Regions from separate parts of the Homo sapiens genome. Here region 1 is linked to region 2. Evidence: fine-mapped expression QTL. Tissue or cell type: whole blood. Region 2 holds a variant in brackets; the other region holds the start of a gene. All regions are shown on one strand. Distances are between the middles of the regions.

What was found. PIP is the estimated chance that this variant, and not a neighbour inherited with it, causes the effect.
Region 1: ZNF2 starts here. The variant in region 2 is fine-mapped to the expression of ZNF2 in whole blood (INTERVAL, PIP above 0.99).

The regions. Positions count from the first base shown.
Region 1 is chr2:95,162,134-95,170,463 of GRCh38, forward strand. It overlaps ZNF2 (zinc finger protein 2), which reads left to right and starts at 3,676. Exons shown (of 5, transcript NM_021088.4): 1 at 3,676-3,727. RefSeq lists enhancers at 2,664-3,300, 3,301-3,935, 3,363-3,792.
Region 2 is chr2:95,043,426-95,051,755 of GRCh38, forward strand. It overlaps MAL (mal, T cell differentiation protein (MAL blood group)), which reads left to right. Exons shown (of 4, transcript NM_002371.4): 2 at 4,534-4,701; 3 at 6,156-6,281. LOC124906047 (a long non-coding RNA gene) reads right to left here and starts at 4,648. Exons shown (of 3, transcript XR_007087138.1): 1 at 3,851-4,648; 2 at 3,090-3,353; 3 at 2,460-2,722. RefSeq lists enhancers at 163-818, 4,277-4,816. The variant AAAAG/A (reference allele first, on the strand shown) is at 3,528.

The sequences.
Region 1 (8,330 bases), 120 kb after region 2:
GCGCCTGTAATCCCAGCTACCTAGGAGGCTGAGGCACGAAAATCTCTGGAACCCGGGAGGCAGAGGCTGCAGTGGGCCGAGGTTGCAACACTGCACTCCAGCCTGGGTGACAGAGCAAGACTCCATCTCAAAAAAAAAAAAAAAAAAGAAACGAAAACTGGCTTCTTGGCCGGGCGCAGTGGCTCATGCCTGTAATCCCAGCACTTTGGGAGGCCGAGGTGGGCGGATCACCTGAGCTCAGGAGACCAACCTGACCAAAATGGAGAAAACCTGTCTCTACTAAAAATACACAATTAGCTGGGCATGGTGGCACACGCCTGTAATCCCAGGTACTCGGGAGGCTGAGGCAGAAGAATCACTTGAACTCGGGATGCGGAGGTTGTGGTGAGCCAAGATCGTGCCATTGCACTCCAGCTCAGGCAACAAGAGCGAAACCGTCTCCAAAATAAATAAATAAATAAATAAAGCCATGCAGCTTCTGTCTTGCTCACTGGGACCCTCTTAGAGCCCTGAAATGAGGTGCAAGAAGCCTGATTGCCCCGAGGCCACCATGTTGTGAGGAAGTCCAAGCACAAAGAGAGGCTACATGCGGGGACACTGGCGAACAGTCCCAGCTGAGCCTAGCCACGGGTGCCAATCTGGGTGCCAGATATAGTCCTCCCAATTGAGGATCCAGAAATTGTGAAGCAGAAACGAGCTGTGTTAGGCCATTTTGCACTGCTATAAAGAAATACCTGAAACTGGGTAATTTATAAAGAAAAGAGGTTTCCTTGGCTCTTGGTTCTGCTGGCTGTACAGGAAGCATGGCAACGGCATCTGTTTGGCTACTGGGGAGGCCTCAGGGAGCTTTCACTCACTGTGGAAGGTGAAGTGGGAGTTTGCACTTTGCATGGTGAAAGCAGGAACAAAACAGAGTTGGGGAGGGCAGGAAGGTGTCACACACGTAAACAACCAGATCTCAGGAGTACTCACTATTGCAAGGACGGCACCAAGCCATGAGGGATCTGCCCCCATCACCCAAATACCTCCCACCAGGCCCCATCTCCAACACTGGGGTTTACATCTCAACATGAGATTTGGAGAGGATATCCAAATGATATCCCTGTGTGCCCATCCCTGTTGTGCCCATCCAAGTTCCCGACCCACAGAACATGTTGGCCTAATAAAATTGTTGTTTTCAGCCACTAAGTTTGGAGTGGTTAAACAGCATCAGACGGCCATAACATCCTGCAATTTGGCAGAGCCTACAAGCTTCTGGGCCCAAGAGATACCTGTTTTACTCTAAAAAGATGGATGTATGTCACTTCTTGGCTGCTTAGCTTCCATATGCTCCTCCTAACTCTTTTGAGAATATCAGTTAAAATTCTCTTAATCTTCCCAGTAACATGGCCGATTAGATGGCCTAAACAGCCCTCTTAATAAAAAAACTAAAAATGCTGAAAAATTGCAAACATCTTTATAAACACACTGATGAGCAGGCATGAAAGTGAGGAATTTGTAAACATTTAAAAAAATAAAGTGAAATGGGCCAGGTGCAGTGGCTCATGCCTATAATCCTAGCACTCTGGGAGGCCGAAGAGGGTGGATTGCTTGAGCCCGAGTTTGAAACCAGCCTGGGCAACATGGTAAAACCCCATGTCTACAAAAAAATACAAAAAGTAGCCAGACATGGTGGTGCATGCCTGTAGTCCCAGCTACTCTTGAGGCTGAGATGGGAGGACTACGTGAGCCCAGGAGGTGGAGGTTGCAGTGAGCTGAGAGCATGCCACTGCATTCTGGCCTGGCTGACACAGCCAGAGCCTGTCTCAAAAAATAAATAAAGTGAGAGCTAGAATTCTGAGAATCGAGCAACAAACCTGACTTTTAGACTGCTAAATCCTAGAGCACATAAACTTCCACTTTGGCAGCTACCTGGAAGCGGTAAAGACAAAGCCTAGGGCCTGCCAGTGGGTGGGGAATATTCTAGAAGGAAACACTTTCAGGACCCCAGTTTCCACCCTCAGTATAAGGCTAAATAATAAAAACCACCACACAGAAGGGAACAAAAAAAAAAAAGTATTTCTCTTATGGATGTTGTGACTTTAATCAAGCTCTAATCTCCTAGGAAGGTCCAAACCCCTTAGTACAACACAAAGGCAGCCACAACCTGGCCTTACCTCAAGATAGTTATTGGCCCCTAAACCTCATCCACAAGGCATTCATTTTGCTACTAATTATTTTCACTTTTATCCTCTAGACTATGCCTTTGCATGTACTATTCACTGTTTAGATCACACTTTTTTTTTCTTAAGTATTTAAGTATACCAGTGAAAGGAATCCTTTCCCACCTTTCCCGGCCATAGTTAATAGCTTCCTCCATTGTACTCTCATAGTATGTTGAATGTGACATAATTATAGAACATACTGCCTCTATTGTGATTTTACATTCTGATTTTTTCCATTGGACCAAGAGTTCATTTGGGGCAGTAACTTACTCATATTTGTAACTGTGCCTTGCTTATGGTGAGCAATTTGGATTTTTTGAATGAAAGTGTAGTCTTATGGAGATGGAGAGTAGAAGGATGGTTAACAGACTGGGAAGGGTTGGCGGGGTGGGGAAGTGGGGATAGTTAATGGGTACAAAAAATAGAATAAGAAATAGTATAACTAGTATTTGATAGCACATCAGAGTAATTACAGCCAATAATATTGTATATTTTAAAGTAACTAAAAGAATATAACTGGATCGTTTGTAACACAAAGGACAAATGCTTGAGGTGATGGATATCCCATTTGTCCTGATGAGATTATTACTTATTGCATGCCTGTGTCAAAATATCTCAGGTGGCCCATAAATGTTCACACCTACTGTGTACCCACAAAAACTTAAAAAAAACCCAAACCACTAATAAATTAACCTGGAAAAACGTAGCTTTGTTCCTGAAGTAAGATTTTATCATATTCTTTGTAATTTTCAGTCTTCCCTGAGATGTAGCTCAGTGGTTCCTAGCTTTAGCTGCACATTAGAGTCACCTGCAGCTCTTTTCAAACTGTCGCTCCACAGCTGGGCCTCAGGCATCAATGTCGAAAGCTCTCCGGGTGATTCCAGCTTGCAGCCAGGGCCGTTCCAGCAACTCCAAGGCTGGCTGGTGTGCGCTGAAGCTGTCGGGAGTCGGACCAGCTGCACAGTTAATACATATGTGTCCTAGGCTCCTCTCTCCTTCCAACGCAAATATGTGTACAAACCCTGCCTGGAACCGCAGCCCTGCTCTCAGAATCAAATTCCTGAAAGTGGGCAAGCGGAAGCGGAAATAAGCCCTCTCCCAACGCCAGCTGACTCGATTTCGTCTCGGTCTTCCCCAGAGCTGGACACGAGGCACCATGATCAGAGAGACACATTCCCTGCGGACGGCGCTCCCATCGGATACTGGAGGGACGCGACACTAGAGGCAGGCAGTACTTCAGGGTGACCATAAGTCTCCCAAACAGCCACAACGGCTCGCTCTCCCAGCTAAGGCGACAGCGCTGCCATTTTGGATCCTGTTCAGCCACGGGAAGCCGGCGTTTGCACACATTTTCGGACGTCATATTAAAGCGCACCGGACGCCGAGACTTCTGGGAGATGAAGTCCTTGCGAAGGCCCCGCATTGATTGGGAGCGCAGTCGCCAGGACCCTGTGCGCAGGCGCGTTGGTTTCCCGACCTGAAGAGGCGCCGTCTTCCCGGGTCCCGAGCACTCTGTGCCGGAGGTGAGGGTTGTGGGTGTGTGTCTTCAAGGAGCGGAGTGAGCGCAGCAGCCGAGAGAGGGGACATGAGAACTTTGGGGAGGTGCTGTGGGAGCAAAACGGGGTGACACGGGCGAGGCCAGCCTGCAGAGCGTGTGTCGCGACGTCTCGGTGCGGACGGAAAGTTGTGCATCCACCCCCGTGTGTGCGTGTGTCCCGTGGGGTCTGGGCACCCATTGTATGTCGGTCCCGGACTTTAAGGTTGGAGGTTTGGAGTCTTCCTCCGCCTCTCCCGTTTCTTCTTCCCATAATGGGTGCTTAATGAACGTGGGTGGAATTGACACCAAATCTAGGATGCTGCCGCTCCGTCTTTGCCAGACAGCGCCTCAGATTGCCTCATTTAGCTCCCTGCCCTGGGCCTCCGCACGAGTGCTGGAGGGCTTCATGGAGGAGGTGGGATTTGACGTGAAAGAAAAACAACAACAACAAAACAAAAACCACGAAAGAAGCAGCTAAGCGTTAGGCAGATTTGAGCTGGAGATAGTTTTTACAGAAATGCAGGAACAGTGGTAGACAAGGTTGAAGAAAAGGTACGCTGGGAGCCAGGGCCCGGGACTCAGAGAATCAGGACAAGACTCAGTAGGCAAGGTGGCTTATATAGGTGTGATCCAGGGACTGACACGAATGAAACTATTTGGAGACAGTTATTCTAGAGGTCACATTCAGGACTAGAGAGGGGAAAGGACCAGTAGCAGAGAGCTACTTAGGAATGTATGGTAGTTTTGGAGTAAGATGTTGTGGACTTGAATTATGGTGGTGGTAGTGAAAGGGAAGGATACAGATGACACTGCAAAAGAAGAGTCAAAAGGGCCTGGTGACTAGATTTGGGAGGAAAGAGAGTGAGGTAAGAGTTTGAATTTGGGACACCTGGGAGAACAATAAAACATCTGATACAAATGTAAAGCCAGGAAGAGGCGTTGATGTGTGGAATTGCCTAAAGGAAGATAGTTTTGAGGTGATGGTGGAACGCCTGATTTAAGGTTTGCAGTCATTTGGAAATGCAGGATGAGTCTGGAAGAATGCAATACAGTTGTATTGTAAAATTACAATACAATTACAGGACATGGACATCTGTAGAGTTTGAAAATGGAGCCCTGAATGTGGATGGACTTTCTGAGGGATGGCAAAAACGAAGAAAGTACAAAGACTGAGCTATGGGCAGCATCCATGTTTCCAGGGCAAAAGTGGGGAAAAAGAGTCACAGAAAGACAGCAATTTTAGTGGTTGGAAGAAAAGCTAGTGCAGTATCATAGCAGTTACAGTAACCACTTGAATAAGCAGAAGCTTGTCCGAACAGTGAAAAGCTACAGAGAAATAGATAATATGGCCGGGCACAGTGGCTCACGCCTGTAAGTCCCAGCACTTTGGGAGTCTGAGGCGGGCGGATCACGAGGTCAGGAGATCGAGACCATCCTGGCTAACACGGTGAAACCCCGTCTCTACTAAAAAAATACAAAAAATTAGCCGGGCGTGGTGGCGGGCGCCTGTAGTCCCGGCTACTCGGGAGGCTGAGGCAGGAGAATGGCATGAACCCGGCAGGCGGAGCTTGCAGTGAGCCAAGATTGCGCCACTGCACTCCAGCCTGGGTGACAGAGCGAGACTCAGTCTCAAAAAAAAAAAAAAAAAAAAAGAAAGAAATAGAGATAATAGGATCAGAAATGCATTGGTAGGCCAGGTGCGGTAGCTCATGCCTGTAATCCCAGCACTTTGGGAAGCCGAGGTGGGCAGATCACTTGACGTCAGGAGTTCAAGACCAGCCTGGCCAACATGGTGAAACCCCGTCTCTACAAAAATACAAAAATTAGCAGGGCATGATGGCGGGTGCCTGTAATCCCAGCTACTTGGGAGGCTGAGGTGGGAGAATCACTTGAGCCCGAGAGGTGGAGGTTGCAGTGAGCCGAGATGATGCCATTGCTCTTCAGCCTGGGCGACAAGAGTGAAATTCCGTCTCAAAAAAAAAAAAAAAAAGTAGTTTTCAAGCATGCCATTTCAGGTGTGTGAGGGGCAAAAGCTGAAAAACAGGGACTGGAGAAGAGTAAGTGGTAACAGTGTGGAGTCAGTAGGTTATTATTCTCCAAAAAGTTTGATCATGAAAGGACAACCTAAATGAGAACTGCTTTGCTAGAAGGAGGTCATGGGATTCAGTGAAAATAGTTTCAGGTAGAGGAGGCTTGTATGTCTTTGAAGATGTTGAAAGAAAGTGCTACTGGGGTGGAAAATGCTGGAAGAAAAAAAAAAAAAGACTGGGGTCTGGGCGCTGTGGCTCATGCCTGTAATCCCAGCACTGTGGGAGGCTGAGGCAGGCAGATCATGAGGTCAAGAGATTGAAACCATCCTGGCCAAAATGGTGAAACTCTGTCTCTACTAAAAATACAAAAATTAGCTGGGCATGGTGGCCCGCGCCTGTAGTCCCAGCTACTCAGGAGGCTGAGGCAGGAGAATCGCTTGAACCTGGGAGGCAGAGGTTGCAGTGAGCCAAGATCGTGCCATTGCACTCCAGCCTGGGCGACAGAGCCAGACTCCGTCTCAAAAAAAAAAAAAAAAAATACTGGGAAGTGCAGGGACAAATTCTGAGAGGAAGCAATGTGAAAAACAGTGGAACCCAGGGTATAGGACACAAAGGTAAAGTCCTGGAGACAGACATTTCTGTCTTGTTGACCTCACACATCTCGCTGCCCTAGCACATAACAGCTACTTGGTACATATTCATCAAATAGTGGGATGAGTGGATGGATTGCATTGGGCAGTAGAAAGGAAGAGAACTTTATTTGTTGAATGAACTGTATGATAAATGCTTTATATTAATGGTCTCACCATTTATAACTATGCTGTGAGTTAGGTGGTAAACAACTGTTGGCTTAAGTAACTCATCCAAGGCTTCATGGTTAATAATTCCATGCTTGTGGAATGCTTTCTACCATATAACCCTGCTTCCCTTGAAACTCATTCCTGGGAATCTTTGGTGTGGTAGAAGACAAAAGTTATGCGGAAATTGAATGGTACCCATGGAGGTTTGGAATAGCCATGTAGCTAAGATGGGAGCAGTAAAAGCTTTCTGGACGATGTCAAGGGCTCGTTTGAAGATATAGACTGAATTTAGGGGACATTTTCTCCAGTGATACTCTGAGATGCAGGGATAGGAAAAGAGAACACAGAAGTGGAGGTGGTTCTTGGCTAGCAGTAACTCCCTGTGAGTTTGGTGGATTTGAGAAGTCTTCAGTGTCAGTGAGCTTACTGAAGTGACTGCTGGTGGAGTCTAAACCTAATGGGGAGAGAAGTCTACGGATGAGGAGCACTTTGGGAGTATCCACTGGTTGTTTAATAACTGGGGAGCTTATATGTTCACCACCATTTGTAATTCGTTCAGTGCTCAGTTTAATTAAAGTTGTAATCTAATAAACAAAACTTTGAAAATTGTCTTTAAACATTTAACACTGAGCAGTTTCGACTGCAGTTTTGGATATGGTTTGATTTGTTCAAAAAGCTCCAGTGCTTTAGACAAACATATACAAATACTTTGACTCCAAAGTTATTACTGCACTTACATTTAAACCTACTCTAAAATAGCAGCAACTCGGCCAGGCGCAGTGGCTCATGCCTATAATCTCAGCACTTTGGGATGCCAAGGTGGGGAGATCACCTGAGGTCAGGAGTTCAAGACCCGCCCGGCCAAGATGGTGAAACCCTCTACAAAAATACAAAAATTAGCCAGGCATGGTGGCAGGCACCTATAATCCCAGCTACTCAGGAGGCTGAGGCAGGAGAATCGCTTGAACCGGGGAGGCAGAGGTTGCAGTGAGCCGAGATAATGTCATTGCACTCCAGCCCGGGAGACAGAGCGAGACCCTGTCTCAAAAAAAACAAACAAAAAAATGCAACAACTCAGTGTAATTAATATTTTCAGTGTGTCTACCTTCCTAGAATTATAACATTACTTATTACATTACATTAGCTTATACTAACTTTACTTAGCACATTATTCTAAATGTGTTACATGTGTTACCCTATTTAAGCATCAAGATAACTGCAAGAGATATTACTTCCGTTATTCCAGTTTTGCAAACAGGCAGACTGAGACAGGTTAAGAAACTTTCCTGAGGTAGCACCGGTAGGAAGAGGCAGAGGTGGATTTTGATTTCAGGCAGTCTGTCTCCAGAGCCTGTACTCCCAATGACTACACTTTCCTGTATCTCTAAATGCTAATTTTGACTTATTTCTAGGGCCTAAGGGTAATATTTGGATACCCTCTTGTGATGGACGAATCTTAACAGACCAAAAAGGAAAAGAATACTTTTAGACAATACACGTTGCATGCTCTGGTTATCAATTGACATGTCTTTGTTTCTGTTTGTGTTTATATCTGCCTCCTCCCAGCAAGATTCAAACCCTAATCTCTCCCCGTTAGGTTGGGGGTGTTTTTTGTTTATTAGTTTTTGCTTATACTTAGCTAAACTTGTTTTTCCAATAAGTTTTTGCTTTTCACGTAGTTTTTGCAAACTGGTATTCACCCTCAAGGTAATATTCTTTTAAAATTTTGCTTGGCCAGTGTGAACCCATTGTTAAATAA
Region 2 (8,330 bases):
CTGCTGTGAGTTGCCATTTGCAGAGAGGAAGCTGGGGCCAAGAGGCAGAATCACTTGCTGCAGCGTCCCACAGTGACTTCGGAGGACAGCTCCTCTGAGAACGGGAGTCCCCTGCCAAGGGGAGGGAGCTGGCAGGGCGCCTCTGCATTAGAATTCTCCCAGAGAAGACCGCGGCAAAGGCCTGTGCTCCAAAGGCAAGGGGCATGACTCAGCTGAGGCAACAGCTGTTTCTGTTCCACAGACACCTAGCCGGGAATGAAATCTCTCCTGACTCGGCTGTGCCTTTCCCGTATCCTCCTCTTCTTCTCAGGATTGCTCTTCACCCTCCTCCGCCCTGTCCCCCAGATGGCCCCTGTGACCCTGGGCTCTGCAGTCCTCCCTGGGCATCTCCTGGGCAGTGCTGAGCGGAAGGTCGACCGCCCCACTGCCCATCCCCTGGGAGCAAACCCCTGGCTTTCATGATGTCATCTGTGCTGAGACATCTGTGACTACCTTCACCTTCATATGTTTCTGGGACAGGCAAGGACTGGTGTAAGAGCGTCCCTAGGAACGTGGTTCCTCAGAGGCTTCTGGGTTGGAGGCTCCAGGGACATGAGACACACTCACCCAGGGCCCCCTGAATGGTGGGGTCCAAAAGGGGCACTGTGCAGCTGCAACGGTAGAGATATTCTGTGTAAGTCCCCTTGAGAGAGAATTTCTCACCTGAAGACATTATACTAAATGAAAGAAGTGAGCCACAAAAGTCCATATGTTGAATGATTCCATTCATATGAAAGTTCAAAATATGGAAGTTTGTAGAGATAGAAAGTAGATTAGTGGTTGCTTGGAATGGGGGCAGGGAAGCCACAGCTCATGGGATTTCTTTCCAAGGTGATGACAATGTTCCAAGATTGACTGTGGTGATGGACGCACGTATCTGCGAATATTCTGAAAACCAGGGAATCATACCCTTTCAATGGGGGAACTGCATGGGCTGTGAATTATAGCTCATAAAGCTGTTTAAGAAAAGAAAAAGATAATGTCTCCCCACCATCTCACTATGAAACATACTGCTATAAATATACCATGCAAAGGAAAAAAGTCGGCCTCATTTTTTAAAGGACTCACTTGCAAGGTGATGCCCCCAGAGGCTGGGTGGGGTCCTGAGATCTGTCAGGAGCTGGGGTTAAACCCATAGTGGGCTTTGTTCTATGGACAACTGTGGACAAGGTTCCCACTATAGACTGCAGGAACCTGCGAGCCAGTGTGGGGAGCATGGAATTTCCCAGGGAGCTGGAAAATAGTCTTCATCAGGTTGGTAAAAGCACACACTGGAACAGGGCAGAGTCTGGCCTGACCTCAAGGCCCTCCGCGCAGCTGCCGGAAGCTCAGAGCCCAGGCTGTGGCTGCAGCCAGCAAGGTGCACACAGGAGGCTGTGACCAGCTCTCCACACACTGACTTCCCCTCACTTTTCCTGCCATTGATTCCTCACACCAGTCACATCTTAAGCCACGTGGGAAGAATGGAGTGGAGTGAGATGACTCTGCAGACAGGAGCTGAGGACTACCTTCTCAGATTTGCCATTTCCAGCTGCCATCTGTGCATTAATTTACCTCATATGTATTTTACAGTTAATTTTTCCCAAAATAATGACATTGCAACCATAAGCATAGAAACAATGTCACTATCCGGTTTACCTTTGCCTATCCACGCTATTAGAGAACTCCAGACACCTGGCTCCACCCTGAGCCCTTCTTGCCTTCATCAGAAAAACCAAAGAGAGTAAAGGAGGAGGAAAATCGTTTCCTCACTGTGAAATTCAGTGTTCCTCGATAGCATGTGTATAGGTCACCCGTAAGCGCCTCTGGCCCACGGGGTCCCACTGGGATTCCATAACGGAGTCTCTTCCCAACCATGTGCAACCCAAGCTGCTCCTTTGGGGTTTGGTTCATAAGTGGCTCTAGTTCAGCCACACCCAGGTACCAGGAGACCAAGGCCCGTTAGCTGACTTGGACACCGATGCATGGCTGGATGGGTCTTCTCCTGGTCCCCACCAGTGAGGCAGCTGTGAGCAAGGCAGACCTCAAGCCCACCATCACCTGGTCAGGGAAAGCGCCATGTTATCCCTAACCCAATATACCTGTGTTTGTGCTGAGTGCTACAGAGAAGACGTGCAGGACTCCCTGAGACTGTGTGAACGAGGAAGCAACTTAAATTGGTCCTCCTGGGAGGGTCACGTAGCCACCAGGCAAAAGGCACTTAGGAGAGGGGTTCCCAGGCCAGGGCCTCCCTCTTCCCACTGGATGTGCCCGCTGGATCCTCCTCCTATTTCTCCATGCCACCCTCGCATGCCTCCTGAATCCAAGCCCTGCCTGTACCAATGTGCTCCTGTCCCTCCGTCAGTGCCCGTTATGGAAAAGGCCACATAATCTGTTGAATCTTAAACTCAACTGTGGATGAAATCTACACACACATCTTATTCCATGGTGGTCTGGGCATTTTTATTTAATTGATTTTGCTCCCATTTTTGTAAGATGCACAGTGCATCCCACCGGCCCTGCCACGTGCCTTCAGGCAACCTAAGATCCATCAGCAGAGGACGCTTTCTGGTCAGAGATGCCCACATCTGATTCCTTAGGGACAACTTGGTTTTAATAAATCCAAAGTCTTCATTGCACTGATTTTTCTACCCAAATGCAATTCTCTCCTGATTGCTTCTCAGTCAAGCAGCTCAGAGAACACCTGTGAAGACAGCGGTATCTCTCACCCAGCAGGTGGGCAGCAGGTGCAGGGAGGTGGGGGGGTCAAGGTGCTATGTGAATTCAAACCACAGGGGACATAGGCCTGGGAGGGCAGCCCCATCCTCAGCCCCCCAGACACTTCTGTAGTACCTTGGAGACTTTTGGCTGCAAAGGAATCTCCACATAGGCCTGGAGTGCTTCGAGCCCAGTCCTCATCCAAGTGGGGAACATGTGGATGAGGCTGAGCTGATTCTTACTGGGTGGGGGTGGCGCTGGGGGAGATGAGGAGAAGGGAAAGAGAAGTGCAGAAAGTCCCCGCTGGGGTTTGTACACGCCTGTCCACAGTGAGGAACGGAGTTTGTACGTACCCATCCGCGGTGGGGAGCGGGTTTGTATGTGTCCATCCACGGCGAGGAGCGGGGCTGGGCTACTGAGGGGTGCTACTGGCCCCCATGTCTGCTCCTCTTTGACTGTATGGGGCTCACTGACCCTGGCGACATCAACTGGGGTGTATTCTGGATAACCACGGGACTGTACTTTCCTCATGCCCATCCTCAGCCATCCAAAGAGACAAGGCTGTCCTTGGTTACTCCATTCCAACTCCAAATCTGATCATCAGAACACTTCCTGGACTTGGGAATATAAACAGTTGAATCCAGAAAAAGAAATAATGAGCAAGAGAAAGAAAGAGAGAGAAAGAGAAAGGGAGAGAGAGAGAGAAAGAGAAAGGGAGAGAGAGAGAGAAAAGAAAGAGAGAGAGAGAAAGAGAGAGAAAGAAAGAGAGAAAGAGAAAGAAAGAAAGAGAA[AAAAG/A]AAAGAAAGAAAGAAGAAAGAAAGAAAGAAAAAGAAGGAAGGAAGGAGAGGGAGGGAGGGAAGAAGAAATGAAGGAAAGAGAGAGAGAGAAAGAAAGGAAGGGCAGGGCAGGGGACTACTGACAGTGTGGTTAATTTGTTTTGCCAAATAAAGACCAAAAAGATCTGCTGGTCACTACCATTGCATAAAGGAAAGGACATTTTAATATCAAAGCAAGTAGGAGGGCTAGAATATCAGAAGAAATAGCAGCTCTTCTCATGACAATACCAAATGGCATAAATCCTTTCTCAGAATGATGAATTACTTAACTTCCACCTACCTCAGTTTCCTCATCTGGCAAACAGGTCAGCATTGCTCAGAGGGTTACTGTGAGAATCACTGAGTTATTATTTGTAAAGTGCTTAGGATAGTGCCTGGAATGTAGGTCTGATATAAGTGTTTGTTAAATAAAAAAATTAAACCCATATTTAAAAAGTTACTCAGGCCAGGTGCAGTGGCTCACGCCTGTAATCCCAACCCTTTGGGAGGCTGAGGAGGGCAGATCACCTGAGGTCAGGAGTTCAAGACCAGCCTGGCCAACATGGTGAAACCCCGTCTCTACCAAAAATAGAAAAATTAGCTGGGCATGGTGGCATGCACCTGTAATCCCAGCTACTCAGGAAGCTGAGGCATGAGAATCACTTGAACCCAGGAGGCAGAGGTTGCAGTGAGCCACACGCCACTGTACTCACGCCTGGGTGACAGAGCAAGACTCTGTCTCAAGAAAAAAAAGTTTTAAAAAGTTAATCAGGGCAAGCGTGCCGGGGATTGGGATTGAGATCCAGCACAGGGCCCTGGGGGGACTAAAGATGCATTTTTGCAGAGGAAAATGCCTGCCCTGTTCTCTTTGCCTGCTTCCTGTGTTTTTGCACTCCAGTCACCCCATGTGACCGCTGGTCGGGGGCCCTTCCTGGGCTGGGGCTCTCCTCTAGGCCAAAACTCACCCCTCCTCCTCCCCCGCAGATCTTCGGGGGCCTGGTGTGGATCCTGGTGGCCTCCTCCCTGGTGCCCTGGCCCCTGGTCCAGGGCTGGGTGATGTTCGTGTCTGTGTTCTGCTTCGTGGCCACCACCACCTTGATCATCCTGTACATAATTGGAGCCCACGGTGGAGAGACTTCCTGGGTCACCTTGGTGAGTCCAGCCCAGGGTGGCTGCTGGTTGTAGGGGGGCGCAGGAAGTACTGGTCCCTGGCCCAGTAGGATGGGCTTTTCCAGTGCCAGGTGAGACTTCTCCGTAGATGTCACCCCACCATGTTCCAAGGCTGAGCCTGCCCAGGGCTCCTGGCAGCAGAATCAGGAGAGGCAGGGGCAGAGGCAAGGTCGCCGCTGCCAACCCTCACTGGACCTGTTCTGTGTTCTCCTGCATGACTGCCTTTCCATGGATAACCAGCTGCCCAGCCCCCACACCACCTGTACCCGCCAGGTGCCTGCCTGCCCCTCCCATCACCTGCAAGGGCTGTTTTCACCTCAAGGCAGCAGGGCCCCAGAGGCCGACCAAGGTGTTGGGCTCCAGAAATTGGCCCTGGCTCTGAGGGTCAGGCCATGCTTACTGTCCAGCTCCTCAGCCACTGCCTTCCAAGCAGGGCTGCCAGAGAGCACTGGGAAACAGAAGCGGCCTTTGGTCATTATTCTGTATAAATTCTGCTTTGAGACCCATGAAAAGGTAACTTTTACATGTAGGACACTTGCCTGTTACCTGCTGTAGGGGTGGTGGGGCCATTTGGCCAAGGCTGTCACTCTCAAAAGCTCTGCTACTTAGACTTTTGAAATCACTTCCAAATCACAACTACACAAAACCCTGTTTTAGTACCTTTTTGCTTTCATTTATTACTTTATTTTGAGTTGGGGGTCTCATTCTGTCACCCAGGCTGGAGTGCAGTGGCGCAATCTCATCTCACTGCAGCCTCAACCTCCCAGGCTCAAGTGATCGTCCTGCCACAGCCTCCTGAGTAGCTGGGACTACAGGCATGTGCCACCACACCCAGCTAAGATGTATTGTTTTGTGTAGAAATGGGGATCTAACTATGTTTCCCAGGCTGGTCTCAAGTCCTGGCCTCAAGAGATCCTCCTGCACCAATCTCCCAAAGCTCTAGGATTACAGTCATGAGCCACCACGCCCAGCCCTTTTTTGCTTTTAAATATACCAGGGGCCAAAAATAAGCAATGAAACAAAACAAAACAAAACAAAACAAAACGAAAGAAACAGCATGGTCCTCCCTCACCCTGCACTGGTCAGCGAGGCCACACCCAACCTGGACTGTGGCCATGCACGACACTTCTCAGATCCAGGACCAGCTTTTCCCTGGGACACCCCAAGCTGCTGGCCCTTCCTCCACCTCTCCCTTGACCCTTCCTCAGGGGAGACCAGTGTCCCATCCCCAGCAAAGTGCTCACTCTGGCCCCACAGCAGTGAAGTGAGACTCAGCACAGCAGGGCAGGCATGGGACCTCCGTGACAAGGTTGGGAGGGGTGGGATTCAAAGGAAGTGGGGGGAGAGGCAAGGGGCGGGGGTGGAGGGGACCTCAGCTCTGCATCTGGGCCCCGTCTCTCTCTCCCCATCCCTCTGACACCCCGTCTGCCCCATAGGACGCAGCCTACCACTGCACCGCTGCCCTCTTTTACCTCAGCGCCTCAGTCCTGGAGGCCCTGGCCACCATCACGATGCAAGACGGCTTCACCTACAGGCACTACCATGAAAACATTGCTGCCGTGGTGAGTCCGGGCACCTGGGGCTGTGTCCACAGCGGGCGGCTCCGTGGCTGGCAGGGTGTGTGTGGAGGCTGCCTAGGCCCTTGGTCTGTTTTCAGTTCACTAACTTTTGAGTGAGGTCAAACCTTGCCTTCATGCCTGGAGCAGGAAAGCCCCCGAGAAGGGCAGTGTCATGTTGTGCCCAAGACTCCGCTTAGTCGTCCGGCCAGGGCTGCATGCCCCAGGCCTGCGTGGGCTTTGCAGAGGGCAGATGTGTGAGGGGATGCGGCTGCCCAGCGCCCTGTCCGAGTGCTCCCTGAACAATCTTATTTAACATCCATGGCAACCCTACAACCCAGGATTATGACACCCATCTCACAGATGGAGAAGTGGGGCCAGAGAGTGTGACTGGCCCAAGATCACCAGTCATTGTGGGACCTGGCATCAACGCTGGAGGCCCAGTCCCCACACTCTCAGCACCAGTTTGGGGCTGTGAGTCTGACCTCATGGGTCTCCTGACTCTCCCCAAGTGGTCGTCCATTGAAGCATCCAGCCAGGGGTGGGGACGCTGAGGCCAGGTGGATTTTCTTCTTAATGGACTGGATCAGAATGACAGGGTAACAGAATATATTGTTTCATCACATGTTTTTCAGAGCTGTGCATGTGTGCCCTTGCACCAGTCTACGATATAAAACATGCTTCTGACCATGGGTATTGTTAAAAAGTAAGAAGTTTCAGAAAGAGCACTCTTCAGATCTCTAGAACTTAACCTATGAATTATGCAAATCCCAAGGTAGAATGTGGTGACAGATCCTGAGATACCAGCTCTAGTAGCCAAAGCTGTGTCATCCCCTCTTTTTGGAAAGTGTAGGGCAGAGGCTGAGAGAAGACCCACAGATAGGCTTTAGAAATGGGGTTGGTGAAGTGCCTCTTCCCACTCCCAGAAGGAGGGCCCCAGGGGAAAATCCCTCAAAGCCTCACTTGCTGGTCCCCTTGCACAGTCCCCTGCCCTGGGGAAACCACACACTGCCCTCAAGCTCCCAGCCTACAATCGCTCCCCTAAAAAGGGCCCCCTCAGGATCCTGGCATCCCCCCAGGGGTCCCGCGGTGTGGAAACATCTCCCGTGTTGGCCCATCTCCCAACATGGCTGGTTTCCAAGCAGCAGCACAGCCAGGGGGCATCTTGACTGATCTTCCTTCCTGGGGAGGCTGGTGAGCCACCCTCCATCTTCTTCACACAATTCCATCTCATCTCCCTCTCCCAAGACTGCCTCATACCTCCCCCATCCCAGCCAAGCCTTCTCTTTTAACAAACATCAACAAAGTGTCTGACAATAATTTCCATAAAATTGTTGTGAACAAAGGTTGCGAAATGTAGATGGGATGTGGTTAGTGGGTCAGCACTTGATGGAAAAACCCAGCTAGGGGAATGAACACCCCTTCCCGCTGGGCAGGTCTCTAGTTGAGAACCACTAGGCTCTACTGCCTTCTGACTTTCCTCTTTTACCTTTTATCAAAGGCAGCACACAGCCAGAGAGGTGTGCAGTTACAAGCCCACAGCTTGATGGATTTCATACAGCGAACTCCCTGTGTGGATGGTGTCTGGACTAAGAATTAGGGCCAGTTACCAGCGCACAGTCTGATGAATTCTCATAGAGCAAACTCCCCAGTGTAGTTGGCATCTGGACTAAGAATTAGGGCCTGATAAACAACTCCCAGAAATCCCCTCAAGTCCTGTCCCCATCACTGTGCACCCCCACCACCACCCAATTCTGATTTCTAGCACCATGTTCAGTTTTGCCTGCCTTTGAACTTCATATAAGTGGAATTATACAGTGGGTACTCATGTGTGGCTTCTTTCTCTCACCCTTGTGTTTGTGAGACTCACCCAAGTGGCTGGGTGTAGATGTGGGTTGTTTGTTCTCATTACTGTATAGTATTCCCTTGTAGGAATAGACCAACATCTATTTATCCATCCCATGACTGACCATGTTCCCATTTTTTTTTAGTTGAGTTGGATAGACACGAATATGTTCACGCAGACAGGAGCGTTAGAATTGAGAACCAGAGTGT